7 linked regions of the Homo sapiens genome follow. The protein of the gene in region 4 purifies or fractionates together with the protein of the main gene of each other region. This does not show direct contact. Each region holds a gene or a part of one and is shown on either strand. Other genes may lie near its edges. The genes, in order: SLBP, ZBTB10, MOB4, GOLGA8G, SLMAP, ARK2N and STRN.

What was found.
Region 1: the proteins of GOLGA8G (region 4) and SLBP purify together in Homo sapiens (affinity purification with mass spectrometry; one large-scale study listed by BioGRID and IntAct). This does not show direct contact.
Region 2: the proteins of GOLGA8G (region 4) and ZBTB10 purify together in Homo sapiens (affinity purification with mass spectrometry; one large-scale study listed by BioGRID and IntAct). This does not show direct contact.
Region 3: the proteins of GOLGA8G (region 4) and MOB4 purify together in Homo sapiens (affinity purification with mass spectrometry; one large-scale study listed by BioGRID and IntAct). This does not show direct contact.
Region 5: the proteins of GOLGA8G (region 4) and SLMAP purify together in Homo sapiens (affinity purification with mass spectrometry; one large-scale study listed by BioGRID and IntAct). This does not show direct contact.
Region 6: the proteins of GOLGA8G (region 4) and ARK2N purify together in Homo sapiens (affinity purification with mass spectrometry; one large-scale study listed by BioGRID and IntAct). This does not show direct contact.
Region 7: the proteins of GOLGA8G (region 4) and STRN purify together in Homo sapiens (affinity purification with mass spectrometry; one large-scale study listed by BioGRID and IntAct). This does not show direct contact.

What each region holds. Positions count from the first base shown.
Region 1 is NC_000004.12:1,695,320-1,698,819, forward strand, and holds part of SLBP (histone RNA hairpin-binding protein), read right to left. Parts: intron 1,033-3,500; coding exon 883-1,032; intron 1-882. UniProt on the Homo sapiens protein: RNA-binding protein involved in the histone pre-mRNA processing.
Region 2 is NC_000008.11:80,520,726-80,524,225, reverse strand, and holds part of ZBTB10 (zinc finger and BTB domain-containing protein 10), read right to left. Parts: 3' UTR 1-3,500. UniProt on the Homo sapiens protein: May be involved in transcriptional regulation.
Region 3 is NC_000002.12:197,543,566-197,547,065, forward strand, and holds part of MOB4 (MOB-like protein phocein), read left to right. Parts: intron 1-3,500.
Region 4 is NC_000015.10:28,526,472-28,529,971, reverse strand, and holds part of GOLGA8G (golgin subfamily A member 8G), read left to right. Parts: intron 1-726; coding exon 727-765; exon of another isoform or gene 766-1,038; coding exon 1,039-1,086; intron 1,087-1,174; coding exon 1,175-1,259; intron 1,260-1,354; coding exon 1,355-1,464; intron 1,465-2,483; coding exon 2,484-2,573; intron 2,574-2,679; coding exon 2,680-2,787; intron 2,788-2,982; coding exon 2,983-3,070; intron 3,071-3,460; coding exon 3,461-3,500.
Region 5 is NC_000003.12:57,927,309-57,930,503, forward strand, and holds the end of SLMAP (sarcolemmal membrane-associated protein), read left to right. Parts: coding exon of another isoform or gene 1-80; 3' UTR 81-2,695; downstream 2,696-3,195. UniProt on the Homo sapiens protein: Associates with the striatin-interacting phosphatase and kinase (STRIPAK) core complex, forming the extended (SIKE1:SLMAP)STRIPAK complex.
Region 6 is NC_000018.10:46,240,034-46,243,533, forward strand, and holds part of ARK2N (protein ARK2N), read left to right. Parts: coding exon 1-154; intron 155-3,500. UniProt on the Homo sapiens protein: AMPK substrate important for exercise capacity and skeletal muscle function.
Region 7 is NC_000002.12:36,851,537-36,855,036, forward strand, and holds part of STRN (striatin), read right to left. Parts: intron 1-3,500. UniProt on the Homo sapiens protein: Calmodulin-binding scaffolding protein which is the center of the striatin-interacting phosphatase and kinase (STRIPAK) complexes.

The sequences.
Region 1 (3,500 bases), on a different chromosome or scaffold from region 4:
CTCTAATTGTTTGTTTAAAGAATGTGTCTGAGGAAGCGAGAGGCTCAGGACCAGAGGGGAGCTGAGAAGAAACCCCACATAGAGGGAGGGAGGTACACGATCATTCTCTCTACCTTCCTGGTCAGCAGGTATTGCCATGATGCAGCAAAAGTTCAGGCCTGAGACATTTCAACTAGGCACAAGTTTAAAGGCCAACGGGGCTGGGAGCAGTGGCTCACCCCTGTAATCCCAGCACTTTGGGAGGCTGAGGCGGGTAGATCACAAGGTCAGGAATTACATGGTGAAACCCCGTCTCCACTAAAAATACAAAAAATAGCTGGGCGTGGTGGCGCGTGCCTGTAATCCCAGCTACTCAGGAGGCTGAGGCAGGAGAACCACCTGAACCCAGAAGGTGAAGGTTGCAGTGAGCCGGGATCACGCCACTGCACTCCAGCCTCGGTGACAGAGCATCTCCCAAAAAAAAAAAGCCAACAGAGAAAGAAAGCCTTCCTTCCTTAATTAAGAACTTTTATTTTCATGGTTGAGCCGAAATGACTCAAATACTTTTTAGGATATTTATATTTAAAAAACAAATTCCAGAGATTATTGTAATTTTTAGGGGAAAAACAACTACAACAACAAAAACAGCAAAACAACAAACAAAAACTGTATTCCCAGATTGACTTTGCTTGAAAAAATAAATTCAATCCAGGAAGCAAACTCTTCCTTCCAGCTGCCTCCCTCCCAGTACAGAAGAACTCAGCACCGAGCTGCAGCAGCTGCTCTGCTCCCCAACAGCTGCTGGGGGACTTGGCACCAGACCTCCTGTCCCAGTGGTGCGCAGCTGCTCCAGTCACTGGACCAATCAGAGAATCACAGGACAAGAATGCAATAAAGACATACATTTCTTGCAAATCACATCCTTCTTCCGCTGGAGGATCCCAAAAATGCAGAGCCACCTTCCAGAGTTTGATTTGCTGGTCCCATGAACGTCGACTATACTTCTTAAATTTATTAGGGGTCTTGGGATGAATGCCAGGTTGTCGAAGGTGTCTACAGGAGAAAGATTATTCTAGCACATGCCCACATGCCACTCACATTTCCACATTAGCCTGAAGATTAACCAAACTATGAGATTAGTATTATTTTAAATATTACAGATCACCAGGCATGGTGGCTCATGCCTGTAATCCTAGCATTTTGGGAGGTCATGCCAAGATCACTTAAGCTCAGGAATTTAAAAATGGCCTGGGCAACACAGTGAGACCTCGTCTCTATTTAAAAAAAACAACAAAACAGAACAAAAAAACAGCTAGGGGCTGGGAGCGGTGGCTCACACCTATAATCCTAGCATTTTGGGAGGCCAAGGTGGGTGGATCACCTGAGGTCAGCAGTTCGAGACCAGCTTGGCCAACATGGTGAAACCCCGTCTCTACTAAAAATGCAAAAATTAGCCGGGCGTGGTGGCCTGTGCCTGTAATCCTAGCTATTAGGGGGCTGAGGGAGGAGGATCGCCTGAACCCGGGAGGCAGAGCTTGCAGTGAGCCGAGATCGTGCCACTGCACTCCAGCATGGGCAACACAGCGAGACTTCACCTCCAAAAAAAAAAAAAACAAACGCTGCTGGGTGTGGCAAATCACTTGAACTCAAGAGCCTGAGATCAGGCTGGCCAACATGATGAAACCTCATCTCTACTAAAAATACCAAAAATTAGCCAGTCATGGTGGCTTATGCCTTGAGTCCCAGCTACTCCAGCGGCTGAGGCAGAAGAATTGCTTGAACCTGGGAGGCGATGGTTGCAATGAGCCTAGATCATGCCACTGCAACTCCAGTCTGGTCAACAGAGCAAGACTCCACCTTAAAAAAAAAAAAAAAAAAAAAAAAAAAAAGCCGGGCACAGTGGTTCACGCTGTAATCCCAGCACTTTGGGAGGCTGAGGCAGGCAGATCACCTGAGATCAGAAGTTCAAGACCAGCCTGGCCAACAGGGTGAAACCCTGTCTCCACTAAAAATACAAAAAACTAGCCAGGCGTGGTGGTAGACACCTGTAATCCCAGCTACTCGGGAGGCTGAGGCAGGAGAATCACTTGAACCCATGAGGCGGAGGTTGCAGTGAGCCAAAATCGTGCCACTGCACTCCAGCCTGGTGACAGAGGGAGACTCCGTCTCAAAAATAAATAAATAAATAAAAAATCAACTGAGATCCTACAAAATGAACAAATATGTTTAAAAAAATTAAAAAATTAAAAAGCACTATCCGGGCCGGGTGCGGTGGCTCACACCTGTAATCCCAGCACTTTGGGAGGCCGAGGCAGGCAGATCACCCAAAGTCAGGAGTTCGAGACCAGCCTGACCAACATGGAGAAACACCATCTGTACTAAAAATACAAAAAAATTAGCCCAGGCATGGTGGCGCATGCCTGTAATTCCAGCTACTTGGGAGGCTGAGGCAGGAGAATCGCTTGAACCTGGGAGGCGGAGGTTGCGGTGAGCCAAGATTGCACCATTGTACTCCAGCCTGGACTAGAGTGAAACTCGGTCTCAAAAAAATCACTATCCGCTGGGCACAGTGGCTCACGCTTGTAATCACAGTACTTTGGGAGGACTACTTGAGGCCAGGAGTTCAAGACCAGCCTGGGCGACATAGGGAGACTCCCATCTCTATAAAAATTTAAAAGTTTAGCCAGGTGTGGCGGCATGCACCGCTGGTCCCAGCTACTCAGGAGGTTGAGGTAGGAGGATTGCTTGAGGCCAGGAGTTAAGACTACAGTGAGCCATGATGGTTGGGCGTGGTGGCTCACCCCTGTAATCCCAGCACTGTGGGAGGCAGAGACAGACGGATCACGAGATCAGCAGTGCGAGACCAGCCTGGCCAATATGGTAAAACCCCATCTCTACTGAAAATACGAAAATTAACCAAGTGTGGTGGCAGGCGCCTGTGGAGGCTGAGGCAGGAGAATCGCTTGAACCCGAGAGGTGGAGTTGAAATTGCGCCACTGCACTCCAGCCTGGGCAACAGAGCAAGATTCCGTCTCAAAAAAATGAATACACAGTGAGACATGATATAACACTGCACTTCAGCCTAGGTAACAGCAAGACTCGGTCAGGAGGGAAAAAAAAAAGCACCATCACATTGAATCTTACTATTCCTTTGCCAGCTATGTTCCAAAAAAGTAAAAAAAAAAAAAAAAAATTGTTTTTTTTGAGATGGAGTCTTGCTCTGTGACCCAGGCTGGAGTGCAGTGGTGCAATCTCGGCTCACTGCAACCTCCTCCTCCCAGGTTCAAGTGATTCTCCTGCCTCAGCCTCCCGAGTAGCTGGGACTACAAATGTGTGCCACCACGCCCAGCAAATTTCTTGTATTTTTAGTAGAGACGGGGTTCCACCGTGTTAGCCAGGGTGGTCTCGATCTCCTGACCTCATGATCCGCACTCCTCGGCCTCCCAAAGTGCTGGGATTACAGGCATGAGCCACTGCACTCAGCCAAAAGTAAAATTTTTTTTTTTAAGAGACAAAGTCTC
Region 2 (3,500 bases), on a different chromosome or scaffold from region 4:
TATAGTATTCCATAATTCAAACTTGTAAGCCTTAAGTACAAAGATATCTGAATTATACATAAGTCAAAGTTCATTAAGGTGTTCCCCTTACCCCAATTAGTCTAAATTAGTACACTTGCAAAGAAATCTGAATTAAATGTCAGTCAATAAAATTCACAAAGCCAGAAGCAGTTTAGTGCTCACAAGTTTATATTTTTAGGTTTGAATAAAGATTCTTGTGTATTTTCTAAATACACAGACAAAACAGTTCCGGAAGTTTACATACATGTCTTAGGACACTTATATTAGGTAGGTAATTTACATTTTAAAAAGTTGGTCTTCGTAAAAGATCTTCCCAAAGAGCTTTTACAAACAGCAGGCGGAAGTGTTCTTTTGTTTACAGTGTTCAAAATGCCAATGCTCCCACTAAATAATGGCCTCAACCATCTCTCCTCAACCCAAAATATTGTTCTCAATAGCTAGTGTACTCCAAATTTAAGTACCCAATGTCATAAAATTTAGGGCTAGAAAACATCTTTTGAAGTGTGCTTATCCCTAACACATTTTAAACTATCTAGAATTCTTTAACTTCAGTTGAAAGCAGAGATACAGCAGGAAAAAAAAAAAAACTTTCCATTTTAAGTCCTAAAGTGACTAAACACCTGTTAGTTCTAAGTGTGGATATTATGTACCATAGTTAAGTTTAAGGATCTGGGTGACTGAACGGCACAAAAACTGGGGTTTCTATCTAGTTCTTCAGATAAAAACCATTCTTTTATAAAATTAAAATGCCACAGCCAGTTAAGAGCATGTGCTACACTGATGTGTCTTAATATAGTCAAAGTGACAAAACAACTGCTTTATGAAGAAAGAGTAGTAAGGAAATTTATTGGGGGGAGGAAAGACACTCAAAATTCTAAACACAGCTGTCTTATAGGAAAAATATAATCCATAGACTCCATTAAGAGCTGAAATTCTACAAGAGTTGTTTAATGAGGCAGCAATAGAGCCTCCCTGAAAGAGTATGGGCTTCAGAATCAGACGTGGTCAAATTCGAGCTCTGTCACAGCTGTGTTAAATTAGCCAAGTTTCTGAATTTCTCTGAGCCTTTCCTCATCTATAAAATGGAGACAATTAGCACCTACCTTATAGAGGATTAAGGTAAAATCATGTATACAGCACAACGGCAAGTGTGGGCACTCAAAAAAAAAATTGGTAGTTTTTTTAATCGTTTTTCAGAAAAATGAATCTAAACCCTTCATGCTATGTTCAGAAAATCCTAAAAAATATAAATAAAGCTTACTAAAGTTTTAAAAATTAAGATTTTTAAACCTATTTTCCATCACACTTTCCCCCGTATGATACTACTACAGTGATATTCAGGCCGTTTACACCATTTTGTATTAATATAAATGCCCAAGTCCTAATCCTTTCATTTCCTATTTTCTCCTTCCTTTCCCCCATCTTTTCTTATTTCTTTTTCCTCTTGGTTCTTATCTATTATTAAACAACTTTAAGATGTGTTATGCACCTATTATGTACCAGTGTTCTAAGCACTTTACATGAATTAACGCATTTAGCTCACTCTTCTCCATTAGGATAGCTGTACCTAACCCAGCTAGTGTGTTTTCCCCAATTTCAAAGCTACTCATTACTGTTCAGTTTCCCTTTCCTATAACGTTTCTTCTTTTTTAAACTCTTAATTGCTAGTGTGCTAAATTTAGCAAAATATCTAGTAAATAAGAAAAATGAACAGGGGTCCATATGGAAGTATCTGTCTCTGAGAACTCTAATAATGCACAATCTTGATTTATGAGACGGTCTGTAACTACAGAGTGAATATGAAAGAAAGTTTATACTCTTCCCCTTCATTAAAAGCTCTAAAATACTTTTTCATTTAAAATATAAATTACAAGAGACAACTTCGCCAAATGTGTAACATAATTCTGCCAGAGTTCCACAGACAAAATTATGAGTATTTCATTGTTACCTCTGAGACCAATCATAAGTTCTTAGTATCTATCAACTTCCTGAAATTTTACTGTAAGTCAGAAAAAGAATACACTTAAAAAAATAGAAATGTCCAGTAGTATACCTTAGTACTAAAACTATTTTTTTAAAAGATCTAGATGGGAAAAGGCAGTCCCTCGAGATCATGAAACAAAATAAGTTAGGCAGTCAGCAAGTAGAAAAATCTGTCAATTCTGTTTCCGGTAAAATGTTTACTTCAAAGAAATTTTTATATAGGCTGAGGCTAATATATTCAAGAGTATAAACACTTTTCCTTTGGATTACCTAAAAACAAACTTTTAAAGTATCATATTTCAATTGACTAAAAATATAGCCAAATCTGTCACAACACAACATAAAGTAATGGACAATTATAGAATATTTTAAATTAACAGTAACAAGCCATCTACATCAAACCTTATTTCCAACTAAAACCAAACAAAAGCACAACAATCCCGTAGTGTACCAAGTGTGTATTTCAATTTACTGTATGCAATCTAACAAAAATTTGGTCATAATTTACCAGATATACATAAATGATTTAAGTAGTAAAAGAAAATTCAGCTTCAAGAGAGTAAGTTCATATCTTGAGGAAAAGTAAAAGTACATTAAGAATGTAAAGCCAAGTCCAGTTTCTATGCAATAAGTGAACTGTAGTCTAATAAAGCAGATTTAGGTGATTTTTAGATATATATCTTTGTTCTTTAATATATATTTATATATAGACAGATCTACCAATTGTAAACTAGTTTATTTAAAGGAAGGGGATAAATGGGATGAAAGAAATCTTTATACTATACTTACATATTCACAAAGAACATTTTACGTTTAAAATACTTTTTCATTCATAGTATCTTTGCCCAACTAATTTCTACCAGAAATACATTTTACTCATTTGTCTAGAACATTAAGAAGTACTCATCTGTTTTAAACAAAAATCAAACCGAAACTATTCTTATCTGTCAGGTTTACAGTTATGTAGAAACTACAATATAGATGACAAAAGATGCATCTAACCATGTAACTGTAATTTATCTTTGATTTATCCAAGCAGAAACATCATTGTCTAACAATAAACCATTATTCTACTGAAATCAGAGACAATGATAAAGCTTGTCTCTTAAAAAACATCAACTTTTCAACTTTGATCAGATGGAGCACCAAAGGGATTATATCTGTCAAAGCATCTTTGCAATTTTTTCCACATAACTAGCATAATTTAGTTACCTGATATAAAATAGGAAAATATACTCAATTTTTATTTAAAAGAAAGCTGAAAATATGACATCCCTCAATCTTATATAATATACAATATGCTAATAAATGCCATACATGTTAACAATACGTGAAATGCTGCTGAGAGTTCCACAATCAGCTAATTCATGTCACCAGGCTAAGTAAATCTGACAATTTCACCTCAATATGTCACCCTTTGTACCCTGAAGAATTTATAGAATAATAAAGCTTCTCAGAATTTTATTTGTAAGATTTTTGAGACTGTTGAATCATGG
Region 3 (3,500 bases), on a different chromosome or scaffold from region 4:
TTTAAAATCCAGTATGTATTATGTGGAGTGAAACAAGTCAGATGCAAAAGGACAGATACTGTAGCATTCCACTTATCTAGAGTGAATAAATTCATATAGACATTTGAAGGTAGGTAGAAGCTGCCAAAGGATGGGCGGTATGGGAAGTTAGTGCTTAAGGGTAATAGACTTTTTTCTTTTCTTTTCTTTTTGAGACAGAGTCTTGCTCTTTTGCCCAGGCTGGAGTTCAGTGGCGCAATCTCGGCTCACTGCAACCTCCGCTTCCCAGGTTCAGGCGATTCTCCTGTCTCAGCTTCCCAAGTGGCTGGGATTTACAGGCATGTGCCACCTCGCCTGACTAATTTTTGTATTTTTAGTAGTGACATGGTTTCACCCTATTGGCCAGGCTGGCCTCGAACTCCTGACCTCATGTGATCCGCCCACCTCAGCCTCCTAAAGTGCTGGGATTATAGATGTGAGCCACTGCGCCCAGCCGAGTTTCTTTCTTTTTTTTTTTTAAGAGACAAGAGTTTCGCTCTGTCGCCCAGGCTGGAGTTTCACTCTGTTGCCCAGGCTGGAGTGCAGTGGCACAATCTTGCCTCACTGTAGCCCCCACCTCCCAGTTTCAAGCAGTTCACTGCCTCAGCCTTCTGAGTAGCTGGGACAACAGGCGTGCACCACCATGCCAGGCTAATTTTTGTATTTTTAGTAGAGACGGAGTTTCACCATGTTGACCAGTTTGGTCTCAAACTCCTGGCCTCAAGTGATCCACCTGCCTTGGCCTCCCAGTGTGCTGGGATTATAGGCATGAGCCACCATGCCTGGCCATAATAGTTTCTGTTTGAGAGTTGGAAACAGTGAAGATGGTTGCACAATATTGTAAATTAATGCCACTAAATTGTACATTTAAAAATGGTCAAAATAGCTGTCTGGGCGCGGTGGCTCACGCCTGTAATTCCAGCACTTGGGGAGGCCAAGGCGGGCGGATCACGAGGTCAGGAGATCAAGACCATCCTGGCTAACACGGTGAAACCCCATCTCTGCTAAAAATACAAAAAATTACCCGGGCGCTGTGGCGTGTGCCTGTAGTCTCAGCTACTTGGGAGGCTGAGGCAGGAGAATGACGTGAACCCTGCAGACGGAGCTTGCACTGAGTGGAGATCACATCACTGCACTCCAGCCTGGGCAACAGAGTGAGACTCCGTCTCAAAAAAAAAAAAAGGGTCAAAATGGAAAAATTTGTGGTGTATATATTTTACTACAATTTTTTAAAATGTTAAGAAAAAAGCATCAAAACCCCAAATGGCATATACTTTCATACCCACTATAATGGCTAAAATAGGAAAGATAGACAATAACAAGTGCTGACGGGGATGTGAAGTGGAACCCCTAAACATTGATGATGGGATTGTAAAATGCTTCAGCTATTTCAAAAAACAGTTTGGAAGTTCCTTAAAATGGTAAGCATAGAGTTGCATACGACCCAGGAATTCCACTCCTTGATATGTAGTTCCCCCAAAATGAAAACATTTATCTGCACAAAGACTTGTACATGAATATTCACAGTCACATTATTTATGATAGCCAAAAAATGGAAACAACCAAATATCCATCAACTGATGAATGGATAAGCAAAATGTGTTGCAGCCATCTCTCAGTAGCCTCAGAGGATTGGTCCCAGGACCCCCATGAATACCAAAACCACAGATACCAAAGTCTCTTATATAAAATGGCATAGTATTTGCATATGACCTATGCACATCCTCCTATATACTTTAAATCATCTCTAGATTACATATAATACTGAATACAATATAAATGCTATATAAATAGTTGTTATACTGTATTTCTTAATTTGTATTATTTTTTATTGTTATGGGGTTTTAAAGTGTAGTTTTGATCTGCAGTTGGTTGAATCTGCAGATGCAAAGTGCTGACTGTATGTGTACAATGGAATAATATTCAGCCATGAAAAGGAATGAAGTCTTAAAGGGAGAAACATACAGTACGGCATTTTGTATATATTAAAAACATTAAAGGCTAAAAAGTTTTGAATTTTAAAAAAAGGAATGAAGTACTGATTCATACTACACCATGGATAAGCCTTGAAAACATAATAGAAGCCAGACACAAAATGCCACTTATTATATTATTTCATTTTAATGAAATATCCAGAATAGGCAAATCCTGTGAAACAGAAATTAGGTTGGTTGTTGCTTAGGGCTGGGGGAAGGAGAGAATGGGAAGTGACTGCTAATTGGTTCAAGGTTTCTTTTTGGGATGCTGAAATGTTCTGAAATTTAGTGGTAATGGTTGCAGAATTTTGTGAATATACTAGAAACTACTGAATTTTTAAGAGTAAATTTTAGTTGTATCAATTATATCTTAAAAGTCAAAAAGTAGCCCATTAATTTTATATCAATTACCTGCTGAAATGGTATTATTTTGGATATAGTGGGTCAAACTACAATATTAAAATTAATTTCACCTCTTTCACGTTACCTTTTTATTTTTTATTTTTTAATTTTTATTTTTGAGACGGAGTCTCACACTCTTGCCCAGGCTGGAGTGCAGTGGCGCGATCTTGGCTCACTGCAAGCTCCGCCTCCCGGGTTCTTGCCATTCTCCTGCCTCAGCCTCCTGAGTAGCTGGGACTACAGGTGCCTGCCACTGCGCACAGCTAATTTTTTGTATTTTTAGTAGAGATGGGGTTTCATCGTGTTAGCCAGGATGGTCTTGATCTCCTGACCTTGTGATCCACCTGCCTCGGCCTCCCAAAATGCTGGAATTATAGGCGTGAGCCACTGCGCCCGGCCTCACGTTATCCCCTTTTTAATGTATCTCTTAGAAAGTTAATTAATTAATTTTTTGAGACGAAATCTTACCCTGTTATCCAGGCTGGAATGCAGTGGCCTGATCTTGGCTTACCTCCCTTGACCTCCTGTGCTCAAGCAATCCTCCTGCCTCAGCCTTCTTGGTAGCTGGGACTACAATCATAGTGCCACCATGTCTGGCTAATTTTTCAAATTTTTTGTAGAGATAGGGGCATTTCCCTGTGTTGCCTAGGCTGGTCTTGAACTCCTGGACTCAAGTGATCTTCCCACTTTGGCCTCCCAAAGTGCTGGAATTACAGGCGTGAGCCACCACATTGGGCCTAGAAAATTTAAAATTAAATATATGGCTTGCATTATACAGTTGACCCTTGAACAACTCCGGGATTGGGATCCCAACCCTCTGTGCAGCTGAAAATCTGAGTATCTAACTTTTGACTCCCCCAAAACTTAATTACTAATAGCCTACTGTTGACTGGAAGCCTTACCGATAACAGTCGATTAACACACATTTTGTATGTTCTGTGTATTATATAGTGTATTGCAATGAAGGAAGCTAGAGAAAATGTTATTCAGAAAATCATAAGGGGCTGGGCGTGATGGCTTATGCCTGTAAACCCAGCACTTTGGGAGGCTGAGATGGGAGGATCGCTTGAGGCCAGGAGTTCGAGACCAGCCTGGTCAACATAG
Region 4 (3,500 bases):
CCTCACCTGGAGGGACCCCGGAGCATGCAGCATGGCTCTTTTTTTGCTGCCCTGTTTGCTGACTCTCCCCTCTCCAGACGCCCCTGCTCGAGTCCTTGCTACACACGCCCTGGGATTGTTGCCTCTTGGGGAAGTGCTAGCCTGACTGGTTGTCAGGGGCCCCGTATTTCTGCCATGACTCAGTCCCTAATTTGCTCTTTGATTCTGGACAAGCCACCTCTCCTTTTTGGGCTCATGTTTCCAGAGGAAGTAGTGAGTATCAAAGGTCTCTGTTAGCTCTCGAGTCTGAGATTTAAAGGCCTCCTAGAATGGAAACCTCAGGGCCAAAGGCTCCTGTCTGTCCTTTTCCGCCCTAAATCTTCTGTGAAGAACCGTACTTGGCCCGTACGTGCTCAGTAAATGTTTATTGAATGAATGCACTTTTCTAAATCACAAGCTGGCAGAAGGGGGGGCCTTTCTCAAACTCCATCTCTAGAGGTTTATGTTACTGTCCTGTCAAGAGATTCCAGATTCAGACCTTGAGTTCTGTGGCTGTGGACAAAAGCCAACAAAGACCCAAATCCTCTGTCCTTGGGAGCTTGAGGAGAGTTTACCAGTTCGAGTTCCCACTGGGTCTGAGAACTTTGCCTTTAAAATCCATTCCTGGCCCCTGCCTACCACTTCCTGCTCTGGGGAATAGAGTTGAGGGGGCCACCCTCCATCACCTTAATGTGACTCTCCCCACAGAAACAACAGAATAAACAAGTGGAACATCAGCTGGAAGAAGTAACATGATTTCTTTGTTTGCTCGCGACATGACTGCTCGGTTTGGGGGACACTCAGATGTAGAGGCCCCGAGTCTCGTCTCACCCACTCCCAGCCTGGGGAAGAAGGCTCACCCCCCAGAGTCCACCCCATCCCCCACAGGGTCCCTGATAACCCGGTCCCATGGGTGGGCCTGTCCCGGGGCAGGGGCAGTGGTGGCATTCTGGGGACATGTCTCTTGCAGTACCATCTCTGCCTCTGCCTGGTTAGATCTCTGTCTTCCTCTTCCTACAGGAAAAGAAAGCAAACAACGAGAAACAGAAAGCCGAAAGGGAGCTAGAGGTGAGTGGACGGTGTGCAGTTTTCTCCTGTCCTCCGGAGAATGTTTCTTTCCTTCTCTTTCAGCACTTGCTTGGCTTTTCTCCCAAAGGTTCAAATCCAGAGATTGAACATACAGAAAGGGAAACTAAATACGGACCTGTACCACACGAAACGTTCTCTCAGATACTTTGAAGGTGGGAATCTGGGTACCCTGTCATCCTTCAACCTGGCACTTTGACAGGTCTTCAGGGGGAGTCCTTTGGGCCCCATCTCAACTCTCTCATTACAGAAGAGTCCAAGGATCTGGCCGTCCGTCTGCAACATTCATTGCAGCGTAAAGGAGAGTTAGAGCGGGCTCTCTCTGCTGTCACCGCCACACAGAAGAAGAAGGCGGAGAGGGTGAGTCCAACCACCTGCCCCGTCCCCTGGGAGCCTGGCTTCGCAGACAGAGGAGTGAGCCTAAAGGTCCCTTCTGCAGGATGGAGTGTCCTGCCCAGAAGGCAGCATGGCCATTTCTCACTGCTTTTTTGTATGGTTGTTAGCGGCAGCTTGGGACTGAGTCAGCTGCTGTGGGTGAGTTGGGGGGCACTCTGGGGAGAGAGCACAGGACGTAGAGCTTGGAGGCCAAGTGCCTGCCATGCCTTTACCTGGCTGTGGTCTTGGCCAAGTCCTCAGTGGGTATTGGGTACTTGTACTGTGAAGGTACAGAAGAGTACCTTTAGTATGTTACCATTTCTGTAGAGAGAGGAAACGTGTGTGTGTGTGTACATATTATGATAATATACATAAAATATGTTTGCAAGTGTTCATAAAAACTCAGGAGAGAGCAACAGGGTGGCTGGGAGATACTTCCCTTCTGTACCTTCTGAGTTTGGGACTATGTGAATGTATTATCCTTTCAAAAAGTGAACAAAAGATTAATTTTCCCCTTCCTAGCTGTGCCCCCACCCCCAGCAAGAAAAATGGGCTTAGAGAATTGGATAGATCTGGGTGTTTAAATCCCAGCTCTGCCTAAGTGATCTTAGGCAAGCACTTAACCTCAAATACTCCATGTTTTTTCATCTACACAATAGAGGTCATCATAGTAACTGTCTCCCATGGTAGTTGCGAGGATTAAATGGGATTGCTAGCATGGTATCTGGTGAAGCACTCCATAAAAGTTCAAACAGTGGTAATAATAACAGTAATAACAATAGCAATATTATCTGATCTCTCTGGGCCTCTGTTAGCCAGCTATAAATTCGATCTCTTTCCCTGTCCCTTCCAACTTTACTGAGTTCTTTAAAAACCAAACCACGGGCTTGGAAATGCCTTGATCTTTACTGACCGAGTTGTATATTGGGCCTAGCCCTGGCCCTTTTAAGGGGCACTGTGTGGAATGGCCCGGCCTCACCAGATTGAAACTTCTCACTCTTCAGCAGTTCTCCAGCCGCAGTAAAGCACGTATGGAGTGGAAGTTAGAGCAGTCCATGCGGGAGCAGGCACTGCTGAAAGCGCAGCTGACACAGGTGAGGTGTTCAGAGGGAGGGATGTGGAAGGAAGATGACCCCAGGTAACCAGGAGCAGGTGAGGACCAGTGACAGCCCTTCCTAATTTCTGTGCCCATTCTTGCAGTTGAAGGAGTCACTTAAAGAAGTCCAGCTAGAGAGGGATGAATATGCTGAACATCTAAAAGGAGAGAGGGCCCGGTGGCAGCAGAGGATGAGAAAAATGTCGCAGGAGGTGAGATCTGACCCTTCAGCCCCCCCACATTAGATAGGTCACTGGATCTTTCTGGGCACCTGTAAAATGGGAATAGTAGAGCCAGAGGTGGTCCTGGGACTGGGCTTTGTGGAGGTGGGGGCAGAGAGGGAGATGGTAGCATGTCCAGCCTCCAGCCCCTCTCTCCAGGGCCCTTTCCCCCTGTGCTTTGGGCAGGTTTGCTCGTTGAAGAAGGAGAAGAAGCATGATAAATATCGGGTAGAGAAGCTGGAGAGGAGCTTGTCCAAACTCAAACACCAGATGGGTAAGATGGGGCTGGCGTGACCTGGCAGCAGGACTGGCATCAGAGGGCTGTGAGGGTGGCTTGGAGTGCCCCAGCGAGGTGGGTGGATGGAAGGGCTTTGAGGCAGAGGGAAAGAGGTCTGTGCCAGGAGACGGCAAGTCTTGTCATCTCAATGAGCCTCAGTGTCCCCATCAGCAAAGAGGGCCCGTTGTCAGCCACCCGCAGTGCTCTTTCTCTGAAAGTGCTTTGGAAGACTGGCTACCATCTGGGTGCGAGGAATCATTAGCAGTGAGGCTAAGTTTGAGGAGCCGGAGAGGAGCTGTGCGCCAAGAGGAGGGTTTTTTCTTTTCTTTTCTTTTCTTTTTTTTTTTTTGGAATCCAGAGGCTCTTATTGTCTGCTTCCTTTCTCAGCTGAACCTCTGCCCCCGGAGCCCCCAGCAGTGCCCTCTGA
Region 5 (3,195 bases), on a different chromosome or scaffold from region 4:
GGATGCCCATGTTGGCTGCCCTGGTTGCAGTAACAGCCATCGTGCTGTACGTGCCAGGTCTGGCCAGAGCTTCTCCATGAGAGCGTTCCTTGAGTCCGTACACCGTCCTCCCTCTAGAAGCTGGCATCACACTCATGCTGGGGACAAACAGAACCATTTTCTTCCTCTTTACCTCTTAAAACAGCAGAAGTACAAGAATACAGCTGTAGGGTCATTGCTTTAAATTATATAAAATGTATCTGTCTATAAAGAAGATATAAAATTGTGACTTTATTCTACTGTAAGCAATAATTTGCTTGCAATTTTTCATGTAATTTTTAAATTAGTATGTTAAGATTCTGAATATTATGGTGGCCTAAAGTAGGCTTCTTGGTACACCAGATTATTTATAACATTAAATTTATGAGTATTTTACTCTGAATTCTGATCACCAGATAATTCATTTTTCTGATTTGATAACTACCCAAACCAAACAACCAATACATACATGGGAAGAGAGGCCCTGTGTGCTCAGTGCCTATCAGTTTGAAATATATACACATATATATATTTTTTACATATTTACGCCATTTTTACTTGTTATGAAACCACTGAGCTATTGGGAACAAGACTTAGAGACAACTATTTGCGTGGATTTTTTTTTTTTTAAGGAAAAATACGTTTGGAAAATAAACTGTTATGGTGATAATTTGGGGAATATGTGCACGCTTGTTCAGCCTTAATGTGACTTGAAGATGTGGAGGACATCAACTTTGAAAAACTTTCCATGAGAGTGTATTTTCTTGAGCAAACTGAAGTATTTCTGGGAGCAAAAACATAGTAATTACACAATTTCAGTGCAGTCAACCAAAATGTTGAGTCAATTGGAATGTAATTTATTAAACCATGTATTTAAAGAGATATTTTTCTTTAAAAGCCAAGTTACTTTCTCATATACAGCATTTTAGGAAGCATGATTTTTTTTTTCTATCATCTATTCCTCCAAGCATGTTTAATTGAAGAAAGTATTAATATCTCTTTAGATAAGCTTGTATTGACCTAATTTGGTTTATGATGTGTCAGAGCTAATTCATGTTCAGGGTGAGCGTTGTACCTACCAACAAATTTCCTGGTTGGGTATGCAAATGGTTATTTTCTTTTTATTGTTGTTAATTGGGACTTTCTGTTAATGAAAAGCACTATTCCCAAGATTAATAGTGTTCTATGCACAATGAAGCACCTAAAAACACTGCTTGATATTATAAATTTAAAACACAAGTGAAAGTTTAGCCATGGTTTTGTGCGGCATCATAGTTATGTCAATAAAGTTTATTTAGGTCATAGAATATCCTAAAGTATCACATAGTTAAATTTTTCAGTCAGTGAAGACCGGGAGGGAATGTCAGTGAATTGGCTTGAATGTTCTGTGGCAATCCACAGGTCTAGCCAAATATTGAAATAGGAGTTTAGGGTATAATTTGCCTTGTGATGTTTGGCAGTCACTGTTTATACTTTAAAGGTTATATTTTAAGCTATTTGAGATTGCTTTTGGGAAGATCACTAGATTTATGGAGGAATTAGTCACAAATGACTTGTAGAAAATACTGTCATATAGTTCATTTCATCATTTTCTGTTGCAGGAAGCCACTCCACCACAGAATGCTAATATGCCAGTGGTACCCAGTACCTCTTGTATATAGGTTATTGCAAATATTGTTCTGAAATGCTTAACTTCAGAATTACATTTTTTAAAGTAAATAATTGTTTTAAATCTATTTTGTAAAGATATAAAGTACAATAGAATTTCTGGAGTACAGATTAAACTATTTGCACTAACACACGTGACGTGCATGATTTAATAAAATAACTTTACTCTCCCTACGCATGTTTGAGTTGAATATCATTGAAGTTCTTAATGCTGACTCTACTATTGGGTTGTTAATAGTCTTCTCTTGACATGACTCTTTATGCAACATAACATACATTTGGTATTCTTCAGGGTTTAAAAGAAAACACTGAGCTGTTTCCTCCAAGTTTTATTAACCTTTTATTTAACTTACTGCTTTATTTTTTTCTCTTTTAATATGGTTATTGTTAAAATGAGAGTCACTTGCTAGACTGGTCTCTTTAAATGTAAGGTCTAGTATCAATATTTACTTCATTCAAGTGGAATAAATGGCTTTTTGTAGTTACTTCCAGTTTTCCTCAAGAATAGAAATAAGTCTGTTCATAAGCAATACCTTCAGTTTTGTTCAGTTCACTTCCACGTTAAATAAAGAATAGGATTATTCACTGGTAATAATAGAGTCATTAAGAAATATTAAGCATTGCAGCTAAAAATTGAACAACCCTGTAATGATACATTTAAGAATTATTCAAAGGTGCTACATGGCAGGGTTAGAGAATAAAAAGAACGTGGTGTTTGAAGCAAAACAGATCTGTATTGGCATCTTGGTTCTACCTTTTATCAGATGTTGTTGCCTTGTGCAAATCACATTTTCTCTGAGTCTCCATTTTCTCATTTATAACATGCGGAGAATAATACTTATATTTGTGGTAGTAGTGTGAACATTAAAAAGATAATGTATGTGAAGTACCATTCGAGTGGTGAATACGTTTTTATGAGAATGTCATACTGAAAAAATATTGCAAATATTAAAGTTTTAGGTAAGCCTAAACTTTAATCTACTTTAATTAAATGAATTGATTGACTCAACCATTCAGAATTTCTGTGTATGAGTGAGATATGTGTGTAACATTATGAATCCTGAGAAAGCATTATCACCTAGCTCTGTTTGTCGCCTTCATAGTTCACTCTTTTGGAAGTAATATGCTTGGTTTGGTGATGAACCAATTGCCCACAATGGTTTTGGAATTCCTGTTGTTATTGCCTTTAGAGCCACTTTGAGTCACATGTGAAAACCATTCACGTTGCCCTATAGTCAGAGGCTTTCAACCAAAACTAGTATTGCCTACTTGATCTCTCACTTTAATCACTACACTTGACCAAAATCTGGTGACTCTTGGCTGCTTCCAGTGACTATCTACTATCAAAAGGATGGGAATCTGCTACCAAAGAGAAAAAACTGCATGCAAATCAACTGAGTTAAAACTGCAGTCTTGGCTGGGTGCAATGGCTCACACCTGTAATCTCAGCACTTTGGGAGGCCGAGGCAGGTGGATCACCTGAGGTCAGGAGTTGGAGACCAGCCTGGC
Region 6 (3,500 bases), on a different chromosome or scaffold from region 4:
ATGTCTGACACCAACTCTGACCCAGAAGTGGTAAATGTGGACAATTTATTGGCGGCTGCAGTAGTTCAAGAGCACAGTAATTCTGTAGGCGGCCAGGACACAGGAGCTACCTGGAGGACCAGCGGGCTTCTAGAGGAGCTGAATGCAGAGGCAGGTTGGTCTTCCCCATCCCCCTTCTCTAACGGTGTAATATGCATGTGTCCTGGAGCTGTTTTCCTTGTAGTGGACCCTGATGAGGAGAACAGGTCATACCAGAGACATCTGGCATTGAATGATTGGTTGTGACTATCCAGGCTGCCATTTATACCTGAAACAATTTGGATAGCTTGTCATTCATCTTTCCTACTCAGAAGGAAGTAGAAATAAGAGCATTTAAGACATTAATTGTAGGTATTGGTAGGTTTCAGTAGGCATATTTCTTGGATTAAAAATGCCCAATATTTGCAAAAATGACCCAGATATGCTCATATTCTTTGGCCAGTTCTTTCTCTCACTTTAATTCTGGGTAGTGACCTTGCAGCTTGGATAGGGAATCGTTGAATCTCTCCCTGTGGGGCTGGCTGTTCATACACAGCGCTGCCGCTGTTTCTTGTGCTTCTTGCTGTGGAGTGACCCTGTTAATTCCTCGTCAGTAAGTTCTCATTTGTCTTTTCTAACTCCTTTCTTTTAGTTTCTGTCTCTGTTAGCTCAGGAAAAAAAATCTCTGTCCCTGTCTTACATTTTTTTAGTTTTGTGATTATTCTTTAAGGTGGTATTTATTCACTAAAAAATCCACTGCTGTTACCTTTGAAAAACTTTCACAATACCTCCAAGTCTTCTTCAATATTTTCTTCAAAAGTTTCTTTCAGCATTCTAATTTAAACCTTGTTTTGTTGTTGTTGTGAAAATACTAGCACTGAACATTTAAGAAGAGAAGGGGATTGAGAGACTGCTTATGCAGTGTATAATTTCTTCAGTGTTGCTGAAAGATTATAGTTTTCTAGTTAATTTATAAATGCATTGGTTTTATGAGTTAATCTAATAGTTTAATCACTACCTAAAGTTATTTTTATGAAAAATGAGTTTTACAAAAAAATGAGTTATAGTTTAGAACTTTTTATATTGAGACAGAACTCCATTGATTGTTGTTGTCTTAAATTATTCCTTTCATAATCTTTGATTGGAATTACAGAAAAATCACTTGTTTGTTGACCTGATTGATTTACTGTAGCTAATTTTGGAACTGAACCTGAATTTAGTTTTGATTTTTTTTGACTGGTAACTGCTGCCTGTTTGTCCTTGGACCAGTTGTTTCTCCTCTGGACTTCAGTTTTTATATGTATAAATCCTTGTTTTGCCCAACAAGTGTCTTTTAAGGATTTATTAATATGTATTAATACAAATACTTTGAAAAGAAGTAATAATGCTTCTGGGCACAGTGGCTCACGTCTGTAAGCCCAGCACTTTGGGAGGCCGACGTGGGAGGATCACTTGAGGTCAGGAGTTCAAGACCAGCCTGATCAGCATGGTGAAACCCCGTCTCTATTAACAATACAAAAATTAGCTGGGCGTGATGGGTGTGGTGGTGGGCGTGGTGGTGGGCGCCTGTAATCTCAGCTGTGGAATTGCTTGAACCTGGGAGGCAGAGGTTGCAGTGAGCTAAGATTGTGCCACTGCACTCCAGCCTGGGTGACAAAACTAGACTGTATCCCCCCAAAAAAGAAAAAAGAAGTAATAATGCTTTATATCAGTGGAAAGTAGTTTGGCCACATTTTGTACAATATGTGTTTCTAAGTTATTTATTTATTTATTTATTTATTTGAGATGGAGTTTCGCTCTTGTTGCCCAAGCCAGAGTGCAATGGCGCGATCTCAGCTCACTGCAACCTCCGCCTCCTGGGTTCAAGCGATTCTCCTGCCTCAGGCTCCTGAGTAGCTGGGATTACAGGCGCGCACCACCACGCCTGGCTAATTTTTTGTAGAAATGGGGTTTTACCATGTTAGCCAGGCTGCTCTGGAACTCCTGACCTCAGATGATCCGCCTGCCTTGGCCTCCCAAAGTGCTGGGATTACAGGCGTGAACCACTGCACCCAGCCTTGTAATTTGTATATTAGATGGTTTATCTTTGTTTTTCATCCTTTGGCAATTAAGTCATCCATTCCACTTCAGTTTTATTTCTCTGTTTTCTGAGTCTTGCCGTTAAATATAGACCATTTTATGGTAAAGTTTTGGGGTAAAAAATGAATGATTACCAACGTTTTGCTCTTCATATGCAGAATTCTTAATATTAGATTGAACCGTATGGAATTGTTAATATTTGACTTTTTGACCTACAAAAAATCAGCCATTTCTTATGACTTGACCGAATAATGCAAAGTTTGCGGTTTTAAAATATCATTAAAGTTTAGCTTTTGGGATGGCATTCACATTTTCAGATTCAAGTAATTGTTAGCCTATTTAAAAATCACTCTTAAGAAACTACAACCATTCTTTTTAAGAAATAAAACGTGGTAAAAGTATGTGAGGAGGAAAACAACTGTGGCTTCAGATGTTTTCCTTCCCTTTGCCCTTCCCATGCCAAAGCTATCCTAAATTGGATATTTAATGTGTGGTATTCCTGTGTATTTCTTTATATATTTGTACTACATTTGTTATATATCTAAATAAGCATGTTTTTAAAACTAATTGGTATCACATTGAAGGTAATCATTTGAAATGTGCTTTTTTAGTTAAACATTTTATGAGTTTTGTTGTTGTTATGTGTGGCTCTAGTTCATTCATTTTCCACTGCTATTTAGTATTCCACTATATGAATATATCACAATTTACCCATTCTCTTGTTGGACATTTAGGGTGCTATTTTAAGTGATACTGCTCTTAACATTTCTTTATGTGTTTTTTGGTATATGTATATGATAATTTCTCTAGGATATAATTAATATATAGAGAGAGCATTTGTGCATATTGGACTATAAATTTTGTGTAGGTTTCTGTATATCATAGGATGCAGTCACCACTGCTCAGCAGATCCCCATGACATTTTGTTATGAAGCTTATTGGCTCTTTCAAAGGCATTTTTTTTTCTTAAATCTGACAATACTGGTATGTGGGTAATAAATAAAAATAATACTGTAGTCTTGATGTGATTATCATAGTGGAACTCATCTTGTGAAGATATCTGAATGTGCTTACAGTGTCTCAATAAAATATTAATAGAATTTATGCTTAGGAGCCAGTTAATAGTTTTGAGGCTTGGACTATTAGTCAGATGGTCATTCTTATGGTGTGAGTGTAAGTTAAAATTTTAATGGTTAATCTGGGTCCTGTCTTTCCCTTTCACAACAAAATAGCAAGCCTAGTTATTGAGCAGACTATTCAGGGGTTCACTTTAATCAACAGCAGCATCTCAACCCAGGTCCACAGCCCCATCCCATTTAGGATCACATAGGTACGCACTAAAGATAGAGTAGGTTGCCTTTTTCCAAGCAATTAGATGATTATCTTGCATCCAAAATATATAT
Region 7 (3,500 bases), on a different chromosome or scaffold from region 4:
TGTCTTTAGTTCATTTATTCTGTGACTGTTTTCAAAATTTCAATGTTAGGAAAGAGAATTGCCTGATAAATCTGGAAATATTTATAAATTACAATTTCCTGCTATATGTGGGTGCCATCTATGGCTTAGTCTAGAGCCACTAACGCTGTTCATTCTACAATGTTCTGTGAGATTTTGCTACTTTAAGTAAGTTCTATCATCACTTACATGGAGATAATTCTCAAATTTAAATCTCAGCTCTTTTTGCATACAAAGTTCTGTATCACATCATTATCATCTAAAGATATATATGACAAAGAGGGCTTCTTAATCCTTAAATCCCTTTATCACTCTTCCTCATCATAATAGAAATGGTCATTTGACAGAACTAGGTTTGGAATCCTAAAAGTCAGCATCCTAACTGTATTTTTTGTGTTAGTAAGTTCCAAAGAAACTTCAATTATACACACAATGAGACAGGCAAGCACATATCATTAAGCCTATATTACAGTGAACACATCAAGGTTCAGAAAAAGTTGTGACTCCTCCACAATCAGGTGACAAAATCAGTACCTATTCTAACTTCTGACTCTCTCCCAACCTGATGGTTCATGCAGATCACACAACTGTCAAAATTGGTTCCTAAATGATCACACATTCTTCCTGAAAGGCTTTTATTAAAAAGAAATCAGTAATTTAAAACCTCAGTGATTTCTGTTAAGCTTTTTTTAAGAGAAAAGAAAAACTGACATAAAGAAAACACTAATTGAAGGTATGTCAAAGTTTTAAAAATTAAATTATGGTCCAGGGAGAGGAAGGGGTGTCCTTGTAAAATATATTACTGGAACAACTCTCAAAATTTGAATATAAATAGTAATTCAGATAATAGTATTGTGTCAATGTTAAGTTTCCGGATTTTGATCATTGTAATACACTACATCAGAGAATGCCCTTGATCTTAGAATTACACGCTAAAGGATCTAGGGGAATAGGAGCATGACGTCTCTCATATGGTTCAGAATTAAAAATTATACACATATATAGAGTGAAAAAGCAAATGTGACAAAATGTTAAAAACTGCTAAATATGTGTGAAGGGTAGCCAGAAGTTCTCGTACTATTTTTGTACCTTTTCTGCAAGTTTAAAATTATTTCAAAATAGAGTTTAAAAAATTTTTTGAACCCTAGAATAGGTATTACAAGTTTATATTCACATAATAGAAAATACAGCTAAAAATAGTCTAATCTTACAGGATTTTCATGTGGCTCCTAGAAATATAACATCTTAAAAACTGAAGACAGTCTTTTCCCAATGCTAGTGGCAGGTAATTACCCAGCCTGTTATTTAAATATAAAATGTGGCTGGGCACGGTAGCTCACACCTGTAATCGCAGCACTTTAGGAGGCCGAGGCAGGCGGATCACTTGAGGTCAGGAGTTCGAGACCAGCCTGGCCAACATGGTGAAACTCTGTCTCTACGCAAAATACAAAAATGAACCAGATATGGTGGCACACGCCTGTGGTCCCAGCTACTTGGGAGGCTGAGGCAGGAGAATCGCTTGAGCCCAGGAGGTGGAGGTTGCAGTAAGCTGAGATCGCACCACTGCACTCCAGCCTGGGCAACAGAGCGAGACTCTGTCTCAAAAAAAAATAAATATAAAACAAAAACTCACTTGACCATGTGGAGTAAGTTCTTAGTCAGTTACACCTGGTTTAGATCCTAAACAAAGAGATGTTTATTTATAAAATTCAGACTACGCATTATTTCCTCCACAGATAATACTCCATTGAGCAACACCCGTGGTAAAGTCCAGCAAGAGAATAACAGTAACAACAAAAAAAGAAATACTTTAAGTGAAATATCCCATATATTCTGAGAGAGACGTTTCAGAGAATAGCCTCAATTGCTTTGAGAGCTAGAAAATAAATATGATTGAAATCAAATCATGGAAACAGGCAAAAGAAAGTTCTTATTTGGTAACACTTTTAAGGAAGCTTCTCCACTTGATGATAAATCAGAGAAGTCGGCAGAATGCAAAGAACACTACTCATACCTAGCTTGTGACGTATCTGCTTCAACTACCTTTGACTTTACCACAGTCAAATCGCCATTGACATCAATGAGAAGAAGGGTAATTTATTCCTATTCTAACAAACATCCTTCATCACTTTAAACTCTATATAAAACTCACTTTCTCCTTGAAGCTTGTTTGGTCCTTTCATTTTTTTAAAAAAATATGCTAAATTCCAAAACAGAACAACACAATCAATTATAAATAACAAGGGGTAGTTCACAGTAAAACATAATAAGAGACTAATTTAAGTTTTCTTTATACAACTTTAAAAGTAAAAAACATAATTTAGAAAATGTCAGGACATATTACAACTCAAAATAATGATCATTTATTCCAGTAATGTTGCCTTTGTTAAAAACATTCTTGGAAGTTTTCTCAAAATGTTTCCAGTGTCAAGTAAAAAGTCCTATTAATTTAGAGTCACATCTCTTGGGGGAAAATGTGGATTCACTCGCCTAGTTCTCTTTATCCATCTTATCTACCAGACTTGACATCTTATTAACCTGCAGTCATTAAAAAGCACTATTTCCACTCAGGATGTTCACAAATTGGCCATATAATCTCTGAAGGTAATTACAAAAATGTTCTCATCCTTTCTAATTTCATATTAGTTTTTTATTTTGCTACTGTAGCTTTGAGTCATATATTTAAACATGATTTTAAATTTATTGAGAGTCTAAAACCTGTAATTTCTTGCTGAAAAAAATTCTCCTTTTCCAATTCTATCACCTGAGTTTAATTTATTTTCCTGTCTCTCTCGTTTACATCCAAGTAGCTCAAAGTTCTATTCATGCTTACTTCCCCAAACAAGTCTCAGCATATCAGAAGAAAACAATGAACAACAGGTTAGGAAGGGAAAATGATGAAAACCACAAAGGAATAAAGAAACTTTTTGAGAGAGAGAGAGACAGAGAGTGAGAACACCACAAGAACATATGTAAACATATGCATGTACATGTTCACACATGCATGTGCACACACACAACATATCATCACTTTTAAAGCTAGTTCTCAGATTAAAACAAGAGTATATGTATGTCGTATTCTTCATCAACTGCAACCTAAACTGTGATTGTCTAGATTATGGCTAACGACAGAAAGCAATGGTTAAGAAAGCCAAAAACCAAAAAAGAGTCTGTAATATCTTCTTCATAACCTGAAAAAGCACTTATTTCCTGACTTCCTGCATCCAATAAGAAGCTTCAGGTTTGGAATTCTGAGTGCCACAACATGATCTGTATTGAGCTGTACCAAATCATACTATTAATATAAAATTAAGTTGATTTAAAATATGAAATTACGAGAAATGAAAAATAGAATTTCCTATTCAGAATAAATATGGCTTTCTTCAAATAGAATTGAAAATTAATCATTTAGTATAAAATAAAACTTGACCCATAACAGCTCAAATGCTATTTCAAACAGTATAGTTATAAATGTACATAAA